Regions from separate parts of the Homo sapiens genome. Here region 2 is linked to region 1. The links come from fine-mapping of genetic effects on gene expression. Tissue or cell type: whole blood. Region 1 holds a variant in brackets; the other region holds the start of a gene. All regions are shown on one strand. Distances are between the middles of the regions.

What was found. PIP is the estimated chance that this variant, and not a neighbour inherited with it, causes the effect.
Region 2: it holds the start of NUP205, and the variant in region 1 is fine-mapped to the expression of NUP205 in whole blood (INTERVAL, PIP above 0.99).

What each region holds. Positions count from the first base shown.
Region 1 is chr7:135,608,559-135,616,667 of GRCh38, forward strand. NUP205 (nucleoporin 205) reads left to right here. Exons shown (of 43, transcript NM_015135.3): 23 at 5,601-5,715; 24 at 7,358-7,507; 25 at 8,097-8,109. Among named protein-coding and RNA genes, the nearest start is that of STMP1, 50 kb to the right of the region's middle. The variant G/A (reference allele first, on the strand shown) is at 4,384.
Region 2 is chr7:135,554,255-135,562,363 of GRCh38, forward strand. It overlaps NUP205 (nucleoporin 205), which reads left to right and starts at 3,663. Exons shown (of 43, transcript NM_015135.3): 1 at 3,663-3,718. The coding sequence starts at 3,691. RefSeq lists enhancers at 3,504-3,633, 4,014-4,063, 4,124-4,183, 4,254-4,373.

The DNA.
Region 1 (8,109 bases):
TTAGCTGGGCGTGGTGGCACGTGCCTGTAATCCCAGCTACTTGGGAGGCTGGGGCATGAGAATTGCTTGAACCCAGGAGGTAGAGGTTGCAGTGAGCCAAGATCATGCCACTGCACTCCAGCTGGGTGGCAAAGTGAGACTCTGTCTCAAAAAAAATAAAAATAAATACATAAGTAAACTATAATGATAATTTATAATTTCGCTTGTTCACTTTTGTTTATTGTTTTATTCATTTTATAAGTGTTTTAAAAACTAGGCTTGGCCGCGTGCAGTGACTCACGCCTTTAATCCCAGCACTTTGGGAGGCTAAGGTGAGCAGATCACCTGAGGTTAGGAGTTAGAGACCAGCCTGGCCAACATGGTGGAACCCCATCTCTACTAAAAATACAAAAAAAATTAGCTGGGCCTGGTTGTGGACGCCTGTAATCCTAGCTCCTCAGGAGGCTGAGGCAGGAGAATTGCTTCTACCCGGGAGGCAGAGGTTGCAGTGAACCTAGATCGTGCCACTGTACTCCAGCCTGGGCAACAAGAGCAAAACTCCGTCTCAAAAAAAAAAAAAAAAAAAAGAACCAGGCTTTATAAGCTGTGACTAATTTCTCAATTTAAGTGTTACCCTAAATTTACATTTTTAGGATAAGAAATGGTGGGTCATGAGATCAGGAGATCAAGACCATCCTGGTGAACATGGTGAAACCCCATCTCTACTAAAAATACAAAAATTCATCCTGACTAACACAATGAAACCCCATCTCTACTAAAAATACAAAAAATTAGCCGGGCATGGTGGCTGGCACCTGTGGTCCCAGCTACTCGGGAGGCTGAGGCAGGAGAATGGCGTGAACCCGGGAGGTGGAGCTTGCAGTGAGCCGAGATCGCGCCACTGCACTCCAGCCTAGGCGACAGAGCGAAACTCTGTCCCAGAAAAAAAAAAATACAAAAATTATCCGGGCATGGTGGTGTGTGCCTGTAGTCCCAGCTACTTGGGAAGCTGAGGCAGGAGAATGGCGTGAACTTGGGAGGCGGAGCTTGCAGTGAGCCGAGATCGCACCACTGCACTCCAGCCTGGGCAACAGAGCGAGACCCCATCTCAAAAAAAAAAAAAGAAATGCATCACTAACCTCTTAGTGTTACTGGCATGGATATTTTTCTTTGTTAATCTCCTGCTTTTCTTTTTGTAATTCTTTACTATCTTTTCTGTCCTCCGGCTGTCCAAACATCCCTTCACTGTAAGTACTATAGCTAGGTTTTCCTGTAAATCAAAATTAATTCTTCCTTATGGGGGAACAAATTTGATGTACATATTAGCACAGATTTACAGAATTTGATATATAAGTAGAAACAACTGATAAGCTTAACACCTAGGCTAATGGCAGGTGAAGTAAATGAATGAAGCCAGGGTCCAGTTAAGGGAGTGGGAGGAAAGGAGAATCTGGCAGACTGGAGAGCATGTGCCTTCCTACTCATCCCTGGCTTATTTTACCATGCCAGAGTGCAGGATTTGTTGGGCCAGATTGTCTGAATTTTTATTTTTATTTATTCATTTTTAAAAGAATTTGGAAATCTGAATTTTTGTTAAAGTTGTTCTAACTTTTAGAACACTCTACTAGCCAAGGAAAACATGTCCATACCAGCAGTTTACCAGTTTATAACATACTCTCTGTTGTCGTTGTTACTGTTTTTTGAGATGGAGTCTCACTCTATTGCCCAGGTGGAGTGCAGTGGCACGATCTCAGCTCACCGCAACCTCCACCTCCCGGGTTCAAGCGATTCTCCTGCCTCAGCCTCCCAAGTAGCAGGGATTACAGGCATGTGCCATCACACCCGGCTAATTTTGTATTTTTAGTAGAGAGGGGGCTTCACCATGTTGTCCAGGCTGGTCTCAAACTCCTGACCTTAGGTGATCCACCCGCCTTGGCCTCCCAAAGTGCTGAGATTACAGGCGTGAGCCACCGTGCCCGGCCATAACATATGCTCTGTGACCTTGCTACTCAAATATGGCCCAGGGACCAGTATCATCAGCATTATCTCCTAGGAGCTTATTAGTGCAGAATCTGAGGCCCCACTTTAGACCTGATGAGTCAGGATCTGCATTTTTACAGAAAGCACTGCTCCATTTATAACTAAATATACTCCCTATACCTATATGTTTGTACTTCACCCTGCTTCAGAAAAAAATTTAAACCTCTAAGTAAGAAGAGCTTGTTAGTTTAAATAAATCTGATTGTAGCAAAGGGAAATGGTCCTTACTGATACCTTCCTTGTCCTGCAACACAAGGGCTTCTGGGTGAAGAAGTTGAGGCCTGGTGCCTTTGCCCTCTTTTCTTTAAGAACGGAGATTTCTTCTACCTGGTCCCTGGTCTTGGAAACCAGGAAGGATATAGCCCACATCTTAATAAAATGGCTTTCAGTGCTTTTTGAACTCACTTTTTGTGTCCTTCTCTTCTTTTTTTTTTTTTTTTGGGTGGGGGACAGAGTCTTGCTCTGTCGCCTTGCCTGGAGTGCAGTGGTGTGGTCTCGGCTCACTGCAACCTCCATCTCCCAGGTTCAAGCAATTCTCGTGCCTCAGTCTCCCAAGTAGCTGGGATTACAGGCGTCCCTGGGCCACCACGCCTGGATAATTTTTGTATTTTTAGTGGAGACGGGGTTTCACCATGTTGGCCAGGGTGGTCTCAAACTCCTGACCTCAGGTGATCCGTCCACCTTGGCCTCCCAAAGTGCTGGGATTACATGCGTGAGTCACTGCCTGGCAGTTCTCTTCTGATAGTATTATTTCTTCCACTTGTTAGAGTATCTTCTTGTGTTTTCTTAACTCCCCCAGTAATAGACCTAACTGATTTTGTTTTGAGAAGTTCGGTATTAGCTTAAGTTTTTGTTTGTTTATAGAATATCAAAATGGTATCAAAACTGTTTAAAAGGTCAATGTACATCTGTAGCAGAGCTTTTTACTCTTTTCCTTGTCTTCTTTCTCTTTGTGTATATACATTGTTTATAGTTGTATTCAGTATACATGAAATTTTGTGTCTTTTTTACTCCTCTCTGTATAAACTTTCTGTGCTGCAACAATGTAAATTACATTCAGGTTGTTTCCAGTTTTTTTTTTACTCTGCTGTAGCGAACAAAAAAACAAAAATTAGCCAGGCGTTATGCCATGTGCCTGTTAATCCCAGGTACTTGGGAGGCTGAGGCAGGAGAATCGCTTGAACCTGGGAGGTGGCAGTTGTAAATAAATAAATTACCTTTGGTTGTTTTGTATTTTTCTTAAGAATATATTTCCAGGCGGGCACTGTGGGTCACACCTGTAATCCCAGCACTTTGGGAGGCTGAGGCGGGTGGATCATGAGGTCAGGAGATCAAGACCATCCTGGCTAACACGGTGAAACCCCGTCTCTACTAAAAATACAAAAACAAAATATTAGCCGGGTATGGTGGTGGGCACCTGTAGTCCCAGCTACTCAGGAGGCTGAGGCGGGAGAATGGCATGAACCCGGGACGTGGAGCTTGCAGTGAGCCGAGATCGCGCCACTGCACTCCAGCCTGAGCGACAGAATGAAACTGCATCTCAAAAAAAACAGAAGAAAAAAAAACAGAATATATTTCCAGACAAGGGTTTATAGTCAGTTCTCGTTATTCACAGTAGTTGTGTTTTATAAAGTCATTGTGAAAACTGAATTGGTGAATTCATTGCCCCTATGGAAAATACAGGCTAGGATTCCTGCAAGTGTCTGGTTCCAACATTCTTGTCAACTGATGAATTCATAATCATGTTTTATGTGTGTTTCTGTTTAAAGACACCTTACTTAATGTAGTTGATTCATTAACATTAAACTCATAGCCAACAGCACTATAACTCAGCCTGAATGAAATTTATCTAATGTAGTATTTTATCTTAAAGGCATATCACAGCCTTTTTGCACTTAGGGACAAGGCAGCATTTCAGCACTATGCTTGGGGGCTGTTTTAAACAGCAAAATCAACAAAAAGCACAAAAATGCAAAAAACGTGGCACTAAATAGACCATTTAAAGAACCCTTTTTATAGTATGATAGCTGGAACAGGAAAAGCATTGCTCCATTAGAGAGCATGAGAGTTCGGTGACTGCAGTTTGTAGCTGTTCTCCCGCGCATGAAGGACCATGGAAGCACTGCAAGTATTGATTTTGGGATTTTAAATAAATTTTAGCATGTTAGGTGAATTTGCAAATATGGAATCTGTAAATAATGAGGATTGACTGTGTTGGGTCAAAGACTATCAAGAGTTTTGGCTTTAGATTTTAATTCACAAGTAGTCATAACAATTATACTAGGTATTAATAGTGCTCAGAATAAACATGTCTTAAAGTGCCTGGTACATGGAAAGCATCTAATAAATGTTCATATTAGCCAC[G/A]CATGGTGGCATGCAATTACTGTAGTCCCAGCTACTCAGAAGGCTGAGCTGGGAGGATCACTTTAGCCCAGGAGGTTGAGGCTGCAGTGAGCTGTGATTGCACCACTGTACTCCAACCTGGGTGACAGAGTGAGACCCTGACTCAAAAAAAAAAAAAATTTGCTGATTTATAATATGATACCTACCTATTATCATCTTGATTTTTTTTTTTAATTCCTGAAAACAGATGGACATTTTTTATTATGGGCTATTTTTATTTTTCTCATATAAAATGTCTTTTACCATATGGGCTACTTTTACCATCTGGGGTACTTAGATCTTTATGTTATTCATATCTGTAATGGAGATCTTTATATATATTAGAGCTAGCAACTTTTTCTTATATTTAATATAAGAACTTTTTCTCTTATCTATTCTTTTTTGTTAAATTTTTATTCAGTTTATTGTTATTTAGTTGAATTTATGGATCTTCTTTGTAATTTCTGCATTTGCTTTAGTTTTGGTAATTTTAATCTTCCAGAGGTTGAGATGTAACTCTTATGGTTCTCAGAAGTTATTTCCAAGTAATTTGCTACTAATAATTTTTTTCTTTTCTTTTTTTTTCTTTTTTTTTTGAGACAGGGTCTTGCCCTGTCACCAGGCTGGAGTGCAGTGTCATGATCTTGGCTCACTGCAACCTCCACCTCCAGGGTTTAAGTGATTAATCTGCCTCAGCCTTCCGAGTAGTTGGGATTACAGGCACACGCTACCATGCCTGGCTAATTTTTGTATTTTTATAGAGACAGAGTTTCACCATGTTGAGCAGACTGGTCTCAAACTCCTGACCTCAAGTAATCTGCCCACCTCAGCCTCCCAAAGTGTTGGGAGGTGAGCCACCGTGCCCGGCCTGCTACTAATAATTAAGCTAAAATACTAAAATGTACTATATGTGTATAGTAAAATTAACTATATGTGTATATATTAATAAGTATATTAATAATAGTTGTGTAATAATGTCACCAGCACTCCATTGTATTTCAGTGTATTTTCTTGAGCTAGGTTGCCAAGGACTGTTCATAACTCTGAGCTTATGTTTTGTGCATCTGTTTGTCCATTTTACTTGAGTTGTTGATGGGTCCTAGTTTTTCACTTAGTAGGTCTAAGTTCATATTTTGTTACCATAATATGTGTAACACAGAAAGACTGATTCAGGGATTTTTCTTACTTTAATGCTTTAGGTCATATATCAGTTATGTGCATGCTCTGATACATCTGGTCCTACTATGAGGTACTTGAGAACCAGCCAGGATTTCTTATTTTCCCAGTTGCAGTATCTACCATTTTCTAACAAAGGTAGGCCATTATTTTCCCGTATTTATAAGAACACATTTATAATTCCATGTTAAGTGATTTTATTTATACAATATTTGGGGGAATTCTGTTCTCATTCTGATACTTTGGCTTCTTTGTTATTTTGGGTTCTTTTTGTAATTTCTGCTTAAAGAAGGCTGATATTTTAACTGCTAGCAAAAACTTATTTAAATATAGCCTATCAAGGATGGAATTTGATTCTCTTACAACAAATAAAATTTAAAGATTGTGTTGAAGGGATTAGAAAATTAATGGGAATTTAAAGTTTTTGAATGAAAATTGTTTTACGAAGATTTCTGATTTTCTCTTCCCAGGCTGTTTATGAGGAAAAAAAAAATCCTGGTTTATTTTTGTTTCTTGTGTTTGTATTGAAACCAATTCAGATCTTGAAATGAAAAGTTGAAAACTAATTATGGTAGAAAACAGTTTTAACTTAGTTTATTGACATGGCTAACAATTATTCCAGGCTAATGCAGTCTTATCGAGATTCTACTTTATTTTCTTTTTGACCAACTTTTAACAGTTTTCTGAATTCAGACTATATTCAGACAGTCTTAGTCTGTTGAGTTTTTTAAAAGTTTAGCTTGTGTCATCTTTATGTTTTAGGAAGTTGAGGCTCACACATGCCATAAACAAATTTCTATTACTAGTAATTGTCAGCATCTAATTTACCTTTTAGAGTAATGGCGTTAGACCTCTGAGAATTATCTAATGGCAAAAGGTTTTTCACTCTATTTTCATAAGTGTCTTATTTTTAGTTCTGGGATTTTGTTTAAGAAGCTTTTAGAAACCCTCTTTACACCTAATTAAAAATAAAAATTAACATCTTACCTATTATGGTATGTGTTTTATAAAACTTCATTTAGCTTTGCCTGAAATTATTATTAGTATTGTTATATGGTTAATTTTATGTTTATACTGTCACAGTTTAGGGTTTCAATGTCAAGCATATTAAAATAGTATTGGATTAAAAAAATCTTATTGTAGGACCAGGCACAGTGGCTCGCGCCTATAATCCCAGTGCTTAGGTAGGCTGAGACAGGAGGAACACTGAGGCAAGGAGTTCAAGTACAGCCTGGGCAATAGAGTGAGACCCTGTCTCTACAATAAAAAATAAATAAATAAAAATAAAAACTATTGTATAAGTGATTCTCAGCCTTAATTAAATGTTAAACCACATCATTAATTGAGGTATTATAAAATCATGCAATTTAAGTTTAATTTTTCTTATGTATTTGTTTTGTGAAATCAAAACCAAACTATGATAGTTTTTTGAGTTATGTATTTGAAAATTACTTTAAAATATTGTTTTATATATCAGTGTCAAAATACGATAGATTCAGGATCTTTGTGAAATTAAAATCAGTAATGAAAACTTGATTCTCTTTTACTCTTCATTTACTTTAGCCCATCTTTCGTAAATTTATACTAGCTTATTTTTTTCTTTCTTGGTATCTTTTTTTTCCTCTTGTAATTTTACAGAGTGAGAAATTATTATGTTGCTGAGTTTCATAAATTATTGACTTTGTTACATGGGAAAATATCTGTTGAGTTACAGAATTTAAGTCTGTTTTGATACTGTGTTATTACTCTGGGAAACAAAATTTACATGTTTAAATTCTAGAATATGAAATATCTATGCTGAACCAGATGTCATGGCTTATGAAAACTGCCTCAATAGAGCTAAGGGTAACCTCTCTGAATCGTCAGCGGTCACATACCCAGAGGCTCCTACACCTCTTACTGGATGACATGCCAGTGAAACCATACTCAGGTGAGTATTAGTATTTGTTTTATTGTGCTGGTGACTAGTTGTCGTGAAGACAAGCACAAATCTGAAGCTTGTGCTTAGTATGTGACTATAGACCAAAACTATCTTCTCACTTTTAGAATTTTTTTTTCTTAAAACACAAAAATTTTAACTCATCTTATGATTGTCATTTATTATTATTTTAAGCATCCATATTACACTATAATCATACCGGTATTATATACAAAATTGTCAGTGGAGTTTGTCATACTGAGCCAGCATGACCTAAGCTATTTCAGTATGTATTATTCATGCAAATTAAGCATAAACTTTTAAAATCATCTCATTGGCATGATTGGGTCTTGCCATTTTTGAGAATCTGATTATTCTCTTTACAATTGTGCAGTGGATTCCATAGGGACAGAAATAATTAGATTAATGTTGGTAGTAAATCCTCATCAATCTTTACATTTTAATTATCCATTTGCACAGGGCTCTTTGATGTAGAAACAATGACCTAGAAATAAGATACCTTGTGTTTGTTATTTCCAAATAAATAGTTTTAAGAGTATGTTCTTCTTTTTCTGATTCAATATTATTGATATTCCAACAGATGGTGAAGGAGG
Region 2 (8,109 bases), 54 kb before region 1:
CTGGTTGACACCATTCTCCTGCCTCAGCCTCCTGAGTAGCTGGGACTACAGGTGCCCTCTACCATACCTGGCTAATTTTTTGTATTTTTAGTAGAGATGGGGTTTCACCGTGTTAGCCAGGATGGTCTCAATCTCCTGACCTCGTGATCTGCCCGCCTCGGCCTCCCAAAGTGCTGGGATTACAGGTGTGAGGCACTGCGCCTGGCCATATTTTTTTTTCCTTTTTTTTGAGACAGAGTTTCACTCTTCTTGCCCAGGGTGGAGTGCAATGGCGTGATCTTGGCTCACCGCAACCTCTGCCTCCCGGGTTCAAGCAATTCTCCTGCCTCAGCCTCCTGAGTAGCTGGCATTATAGGCATGTGCCACCACGCCCAGCTAATTTTGTATTTTTAGTAGAGACGGGGTTTCTCCATGTTGGTCAGGCTGGTCTCGAACTCCTGACCTCAGGTGATCTGCCTGTCTTGGCCTCCCAAAGTGCTAGGATTACAGGCGTGAGCCACCGTGTCCGGTCATGTTTTTTTGTATTTAAAAATCACTTTCAGGCTGGGCACAGTGACTCATGCCTGTAATTTCAGTGTTTTGGGAAGCCGAGGTTAAGAGTTCGAGACCAGCCTGGCTAACATGGCAAACCCCCGCCCCCCGCCATGTACTAAAAATACAAAAATTAGCCGGGTGTGGTGAAATGCCCCTGTAATCCCAGCTACTCAGGAGGCTGAGGCACAAGAATCGCTTGAACCCGGGAGGTGGAGGCTGCAGTGAGCCAAGATTGCACCACTGCACTCCAGCGACAGAGTGAAACTGTGTCTTGAAATAAATTAATAAAATAAAATAAAAAATAAAAATCACCTTAGGAGTCCATGAAAGGAAGATCAGATGGAAATAAGAAAGACAAATGAGAAGGCTATTGCAAAATACCAAGTTTAAGAAGATGAGACTTGAACAATGGCATAGAAAGCAGAGAAGAGGAAAAGGGTTCCAGAAATATTTGTGAGGTAGAATGAACAGGATTTGACAATTGAAGGAAGAATACAGAAAGAATCCCAGGTTTCCGATTTTGGCAACTGGGTGGGGATACAGGTGGCAGAGTTTTAGGGGAAAAGTGATCATTTACGTTTCAGACATGTTGGTTTTGAAACGCCTGTGTGGCAATCAATACAGATATGAAGTAGAGAGTTGGTTCTACAAATATGAAGCTCAAGAGAGAGGACTGGACTAGAGATACAAACACAGAATTCATCAGCAAGCAGGTGGTAGTAAGAAACCATAAGATGTCCCACAGAAAGCATGTAGAATGAAAAGGACAGAAACTAGAGATGACTATAGGGGAAGAGCTAGATTTAGTGGGTAGAAGAGGAAGAGAAGTCCACGTAAAACACTAAAAAAGAACTGGAAAGAGGAGGAAAACCAGTATCATTGGTGCCCCAGTAGCCACAGGATAATATAATTTTGTTTCTTTCTTTTTCTTTTCTTTTTCTTTTTTTTTTTTTGAGGCAGAGTTTTTACTCTGTTACCCAGGCTGGAGTGCAATGGTGCGATCTCGGCTCACTGCAACCTCTGCCTCTGGGGTTCAAGCGATTCTCCTGCCTTAGTCTCCCAAGTAGCTGGGATTACAGGAGTCCTGTCACCACGCCCAGCTAATTTTGTATTTTTAGTAGAGACAAGGTTTCACCATGTTGGCCAGGCTGGTCTCGAACTCTTGACCTCAGGTGATTCTCCCACCTCAGCGTCCCATAGTGCTAGGATTACCGGCGTGCGCCACTGCACCCGGCCTATAACTATCATAATTCAGAAAAGTGCCCATGGAATTTGATGACTGATAACTGGTAAACATACCAAGCGCAGTTTTAGAGGGGCTTATGATGGCAATATCCCAATTGCTACGAATTGAAGAAGCCTGTGAGAGAATGCTTGTAAAGTGTAATGACAGGTGAAGAGGAGTTGCTGGAATTTAAAGAGTTACTTTATAGAAAGCAAAGTTATCTACTGAGAGGGAAGCGTGTGGGCTTAAAAAGTGCATGTGGAGAGGGAAAGGCTTGTAATAGCTGTGCTGAGAGAGAAATCTTTGAATGCCGCTTCCTGTCAAGTTCCTGCTCAGTATTCTTCTCAGTTTCATGATAAACTTCTTGAAAAATTCCTTTGCGTTTACTTTCTCTCTTCCCCACTTCACTCCTTAAAACCACTTTAATCGTAGTTTGGCATTTGTCTCTATATATCAATGACTTTTAGAAAAAATCACCAGTGATTTTTGTGTTTCAAACCTAATGTACATTGTGTCACTTGATATTATTTGTTCAAAAGAATAAATGTTCTGTTCTGGATATTCTTTTTTTTTTTAAATGGAGTCTCACTCACTCTGTTGCCTAGGCTGGAGTGCAGTGGTATGATCTCAGCTCACTGCAACCTCCACCTCCCGGGTTCAAGGGATTCTCCTGCCTCAGCCTTCCGAACAGCTGGGGTTACAGGTGCGTGCCGCCATGCCTGGCTAATTTTTGTATTTTTAGTAGAGACGGGGTTTCACCTTCCTGGCCAGGCTGGTCTCAAACACTTGACCTTAAGTGATCGCCTGCCTTGGCCTCCCAAAGTGCTGGGATTACAGGCATAAGCCACTGCGCCCTGCCAGTTCTGGATATTCTTAACATACTCTATGCTTTTGTCTAAATTATTTGATTCTGATTTCCAACAGTGAAATGGGAATGATGGAGAGTTAATACAATGAGATTGTAAGGCACATGGAGCGTCTCTGACATAAATAGTTATAATCATATCATTTTCCCAATAGAATGGTTTGCAGGGATTAAATGAGATAATGGCTATAAAATTTTTCTTAATACATAGCTGTAAATAGCAATGATTATTTACATTTTAGTTTGAAAATCAGCAAACTAAAATTTAACAGCTGAAGAAAGAGTTCAGCTACTTTGGGTGCTCAGGTAGAAAAATACTTGGTGATTATGAAACGATATGTCTGGAATCTGTTTCAAACTAATCGGGGGCGGGGGGTGGGGAGGGGAGGGTGTTGGGGTGGTAAGGGTGGGTTGGGGCTGCCGTGGTGGGAAATTGGCCACGTTATTGATGCTGAGTGTTTGCTATTCTAATTTTGTATCCGTTTGAAAATTTTATAATTAAAAATTATGATTTGTTTCGCTCTACGCAACTATGTTGACAGAATATATTTGGTAAACTGAAATGTCACGGAAACTTAGTTTGTAACCGGTCAGTGGCTTTTTGAGGTGTAGACACTTCATACCTTACTTCACTCCCCACTGTAAGGAAGATTTAACTTGAAGCGGAGATAATGATTTGAATTTACGGCTTTTATAATGTCATAAATGGGCGTCATTTTAATAACTACTCTCAGAATATCTTTTTCTATTCCACTTTACTTTTTCCTCTCCACTTAACCAACTCATCATTAGAAACTACAAGTCCCAGGATGCACTACACGATGAACGTCGGATCGAGGACCTCGTGTCTCTGAAGTGGTTGCCCTCGCCTTATTTGAATGGGAATAATCCCAATGAAAATTGATGTTTGTGACCCAGAGCAGATTCTGGAGCCTTTTGTACGCCTGGGACGGCCCAGCGTGGAGGGGACAGTGTGGTGCCTTTTTGTTCAGGCTTCGCTCAGGTCAGCCTCACCCTTTCCCGGGGCCTCCATGCGGCAGAAGGGCTCTGTTAGTGCGCCTCTAAGATGGCGACGCCTTTGGCGGTAAATTCGGGTAAGTGTGGCCAGACAGAAAGACGATTGAGCTGAGCGATAACCAGGTCTTCATGGAGAGACGAGACCGTGAGGTTTCTCGGAGTCTAGGACCCCACTTATGTGCGGTGCCTGCTTTTCCCTAATTCTGGGCCTAGAGTCCCACCCCTCCCCAGTTTGAATGGCGCGCGTCGGTGCTGCGGCTCCAGCCCTCGAGTTGGGGTTTGAGATTCCAGGCAGTGAGGCTTGGGCCGCTGGACCCAGGTGTGTAATCTCTCACAGCCCAGGGCTGAGTCTGGTCCCCCTCACCCCCAAGTTTCACTGTGCGTCTGTGGTCCCGATTTCGCTGGAATACGCATCAGGTCTTCCACAGTGAAGCCAGAGGACCCGAGATATTTTCCAGCCATGAGCAGAGGCTGAAAGTAGGCGTCGGAGTTCCTTATAGGGTGGGAGATCTTGCAGGCAGCGAATACTCCCTATTATGAAGTCGGCCATCTGAAAGGTGGTCAGGAAGAGGGTGGCGGGGCTTCAGCAGACGTCTTCTAACCCTGCGGATGTGGTTAGGCCCTGGATGTTCTTGTACCTTTGGAGCTGTAGATTTTCGGGGTGGAATTGAATCTAGAAGGTAGTAAAGGAACTCTGGAAGATTTGGGGTGGATCCTCTTTCGGTGATTCTCAATTCGGGCCGTACCGCCCTCCAGTGGTGTTTGAATGAGTGAGTGCATTTTGATTGTCATATTTCCTGGGGTACACTGCTGTCGCATAGTAGGCGGGGCAAGGATGCAGAAAGTCCTTCATGGTCAGAGCAGTCCGGAAAAATAATTTGGTGCCTAGAATGTTAATGCCTCGATTGAGATGCTCTGAAGTTCGCGGGCAAGATTAAGAGTATATCTGTGTGGTAAATGCTTGTGAGAATCTCACTTAAAAGGACTCTTTTTTAAAGTATTGGTTCTATTTTCCACAGGACTGATATTCTTGAAAAGTTGTCTAAATCTGTTTTGTAAATCAAATCATTTCAGAAAAGCTATGATAAATTATAATGAAGGCTATGTTTACTGAACACATACTATATCCCAGCATTGCACTTATTATCGTGCTTATCTCATTCAGTTCCCGTTTATACACCTTTGGAGTAGTTACTGTTACATACTCCGTTTTACAGATTTGGAAATAGAGGCTTCAAATAGTTACGTAATGTCCCCAGAGTTAAACATCTAATGATCTAAGTCAGTCTTAGGTGCTTAAACTACTTAGTGCTACTGCTTAAGCACAACCTAATTCATTTTATGATATTAGACGTATATATTAGAAGGTTAGTAATGAAGTTACATGCTTAATATTGCGGTCCTTCCTTCCCAATTAGATATGCTTAACGTGTGGTTGTATATAATACATTTCTCTATTTTATTTTATTTTTTAATTTTTCTTTTTGAGATGGAGTCTTGCTCTGTCTCCCAGGCGGGAGTGCAGTGATGCGATCCGCGATCCTGGCTCGCTGCAACCTCTGCCTCCCAGGTTGAAGCAATTCTCCTGCCTCAGCCTCCTGAGTAGCTGGGATTACAGGCATGTGCCACCACGCTGGGCTAATTTTTGTATTTTTAGTAGAGGTGGGGTTTCTCCATGTTGGCTAGGCTGATCTCGAACTGCTGTCCTCAAGCGATCTTTCTGCCTCGGCCTCCCAAAGTGGTAGGTTTACAGGTGTGAGCCAGTACGCAAGGTATACACATTTATTTTCCTTTTTTTTTTTTTTCTTTTTTTGAGATGGAGTCTCATCCTGTCCACCCAGGCTGGAGTGCAGTGGCGTGATCTCGGCTCACTGCAGCCTCCACCTCCTGGGTTGGAGCAACTCTCCTGCCTCAGCCTCTGAAGTAACTGGGATTACAGGCGCCCGCCACCATGCTTGGCTAGCCTGGCTAATTTTTTTTTGAGATGGAGTCTCACTCTGTTGCCCGGGCTGGAGTGCAGTGGCACGATCTTGGCTCACTGCAACGTCCGCCTCCTGGGTTCAAGCGATTCCCCTGCCTCAGCCTCCCGAGGGGCTGGGATTACAGGCGCCCGCCACTACACCCAGCTAATTTTTTGTATTTGTAGTAGAGAAGGGGTTTCACCATATTGGCCAGGCTGGTCTCGAGCTCCTGACCCCGTGATTCACTCCCTTCAGCCTCCCAAAGTGCTGGGATTACAGGTGTGAGCCACTGCGCCTGGCCAATTTTTTTTGTATTTTTAGTAGAGACGGGGTTTCACCATGTTGGCCAGACTGGTCTCAAACTCCTGACCTCAGGTGATCCGCCTACCTCGGCATCCCAAAGTGCTGGGATTACAGGCGTGAGCCACTGTGCCTGGCCTATATACATTCCTTTAGTACATACTCGCCCTAAGCTATTATAATTATTAAACAAATCATTGGAGGGAAAAGGAGTTGCCAACAGCAGCAAAGAGTGTACATTGTATAATAAAGCCTTGTGTCAGGAGTGTTTAATTGGCAACATAGGAAACATTTTTAAAAGCCAAGAGTCAGGAGCTGGTTTTTTAAAAAACTAAACGTCTTAGGGAAGGAACTCTTTTTCCATCAAGGAATGAATGTTGGGTTGAGTGGGTAAAGGAAATGTGTCATATACATGCAATATGCATAATACATATACATGCATATACATAACATAACGTATACATGCATATATATAGTATCCTTATGCAGCCTTAAAAAGGAAGGAAATCCTGTCACATAAAACAACGTGGATGAAACTTGAGGACATACTAAGTGAAATAAGCCAGTCACAAGACACAAATACTACATGATTCCACTTATATGAGGTATCTGAAGTAGTCATACTCATAGAAACAGAAAGTAGAATGGTGGTTGCCAGGGGCTGGGAAAGGGGAAAGTGGGGAGTTGTTTAGGGGGCATAGAGTTTCTGTTTTGCAAGATGAAAAAAGCTGTGAAGATCTGTTGCACAATGTGAATACACTGAACACTGCTGAACTGTACACTTAAAATTTGTTGAGATTGCATTCTATGTTATGTGCTTCCTTTAAATTACAGTTTTAAAAAATCAAACATCTTGGAGTTGTAAGGAAAAAATACAGAGATTGTAGAGTTCTAAGACCTATGGTTGGCCAGGTGTGGTGGCTTATGCCTGTAATCCCAGCACTTTGGGAGGCTGAAGTGGGCAGATCACCTGAAGTCAGGAGTTCGAGACCAGCCTGGCCAACATGGTGAAACCCTGTCTCTACAAAAATACAAAAATTAGCCTGGCATGATGGCAGGTGTCTGTAATCCCAGCTACTCGGGAGGCTGAGGCAGGAGAATTGCTTGAACCCAGGAGGAGGAGGTTGCAGTGAGCCGAGATCATACCACTGCACTCCAGCCTAGGCAACAGAGCGAGACTCTGTCTTAAAAACAAACAAACAAAAAACAAACAAAAAAACCTATGCTTGTATTTCAGCTGTATAACTTAACTAGTCTTGTGACCTGTATCAACCTGGCTGAGTACACTCACAGACTTGTGAATAAGCAACTATTAACACTGCTTGGCAGTCCTTCTGTGATAGTCTGGTCACCTCGTCCATTCACAGCAGTGACTACTTCAGACCTTTCTACACTCTTCAAATCTTTAACCTGCAACTAACTAAACCCTCAGACTTCTAGTCACAGAGAAAATAGGAGCCAACATACATGAACTCCCTTTATTCACTCTCAAACCTACAAACCTAGGTGTGTCTGCATTCTTTTGAATCACTTTTCCTCTGTCTTCCTATCTAATGTAAATCCCACCCATTGTGTTCTTCACCTGTTACCCCTTTTTTTGTCTTGTATATTCACTTCTCTCTCTTGCTCTTCCCTTTCTCTCCACTGATGATCTCATGCGTCACTCCACTTACTGTCCTCTTCCTAGTCAAGCCTTTCAAAAGATTTGTTAGTATTCATGGACTCCATCTCCTTCCTTCCTTTGTTCCTTCCTTCCTTCCCTCCTTCCTTCCTTCCTTCCTTCCCTCCCTCCCTCACTCTGCCCAGGCTGGAGTGCAGTGGTGCAGTCTCGGCTCACTGCAGTCTCCACCTCCCAAGTTTAAATGATTCTCCTGCCTCAGCCTAGTAGCTGGGATTACAGGCCTGAACTGCTATGCCCAGCCTACTGACTCCCTTTTCATACCTCCTATTCCTTCACCCATTCTGGTCTCTTCCATCCTTGTAAACAGCTCTCAATAGGGTTAACTTCTGTTTCTTGTAGTTCAGAAAGTTCCTTTTTAAAAAATTATTTTTTATTTTGAGACAGGGGCTCATTCTGTCGCCCAGACTGGAGTGCGGTGGTGTGATCTCAGCTCACTACAACCTCTGCCTCCCAGGTTCAAGAGATTCTCCTGCCTTAGCCTCCCTAAGTAGCTGGGATTACAGGCGCCCACCACCACACCTGGCTA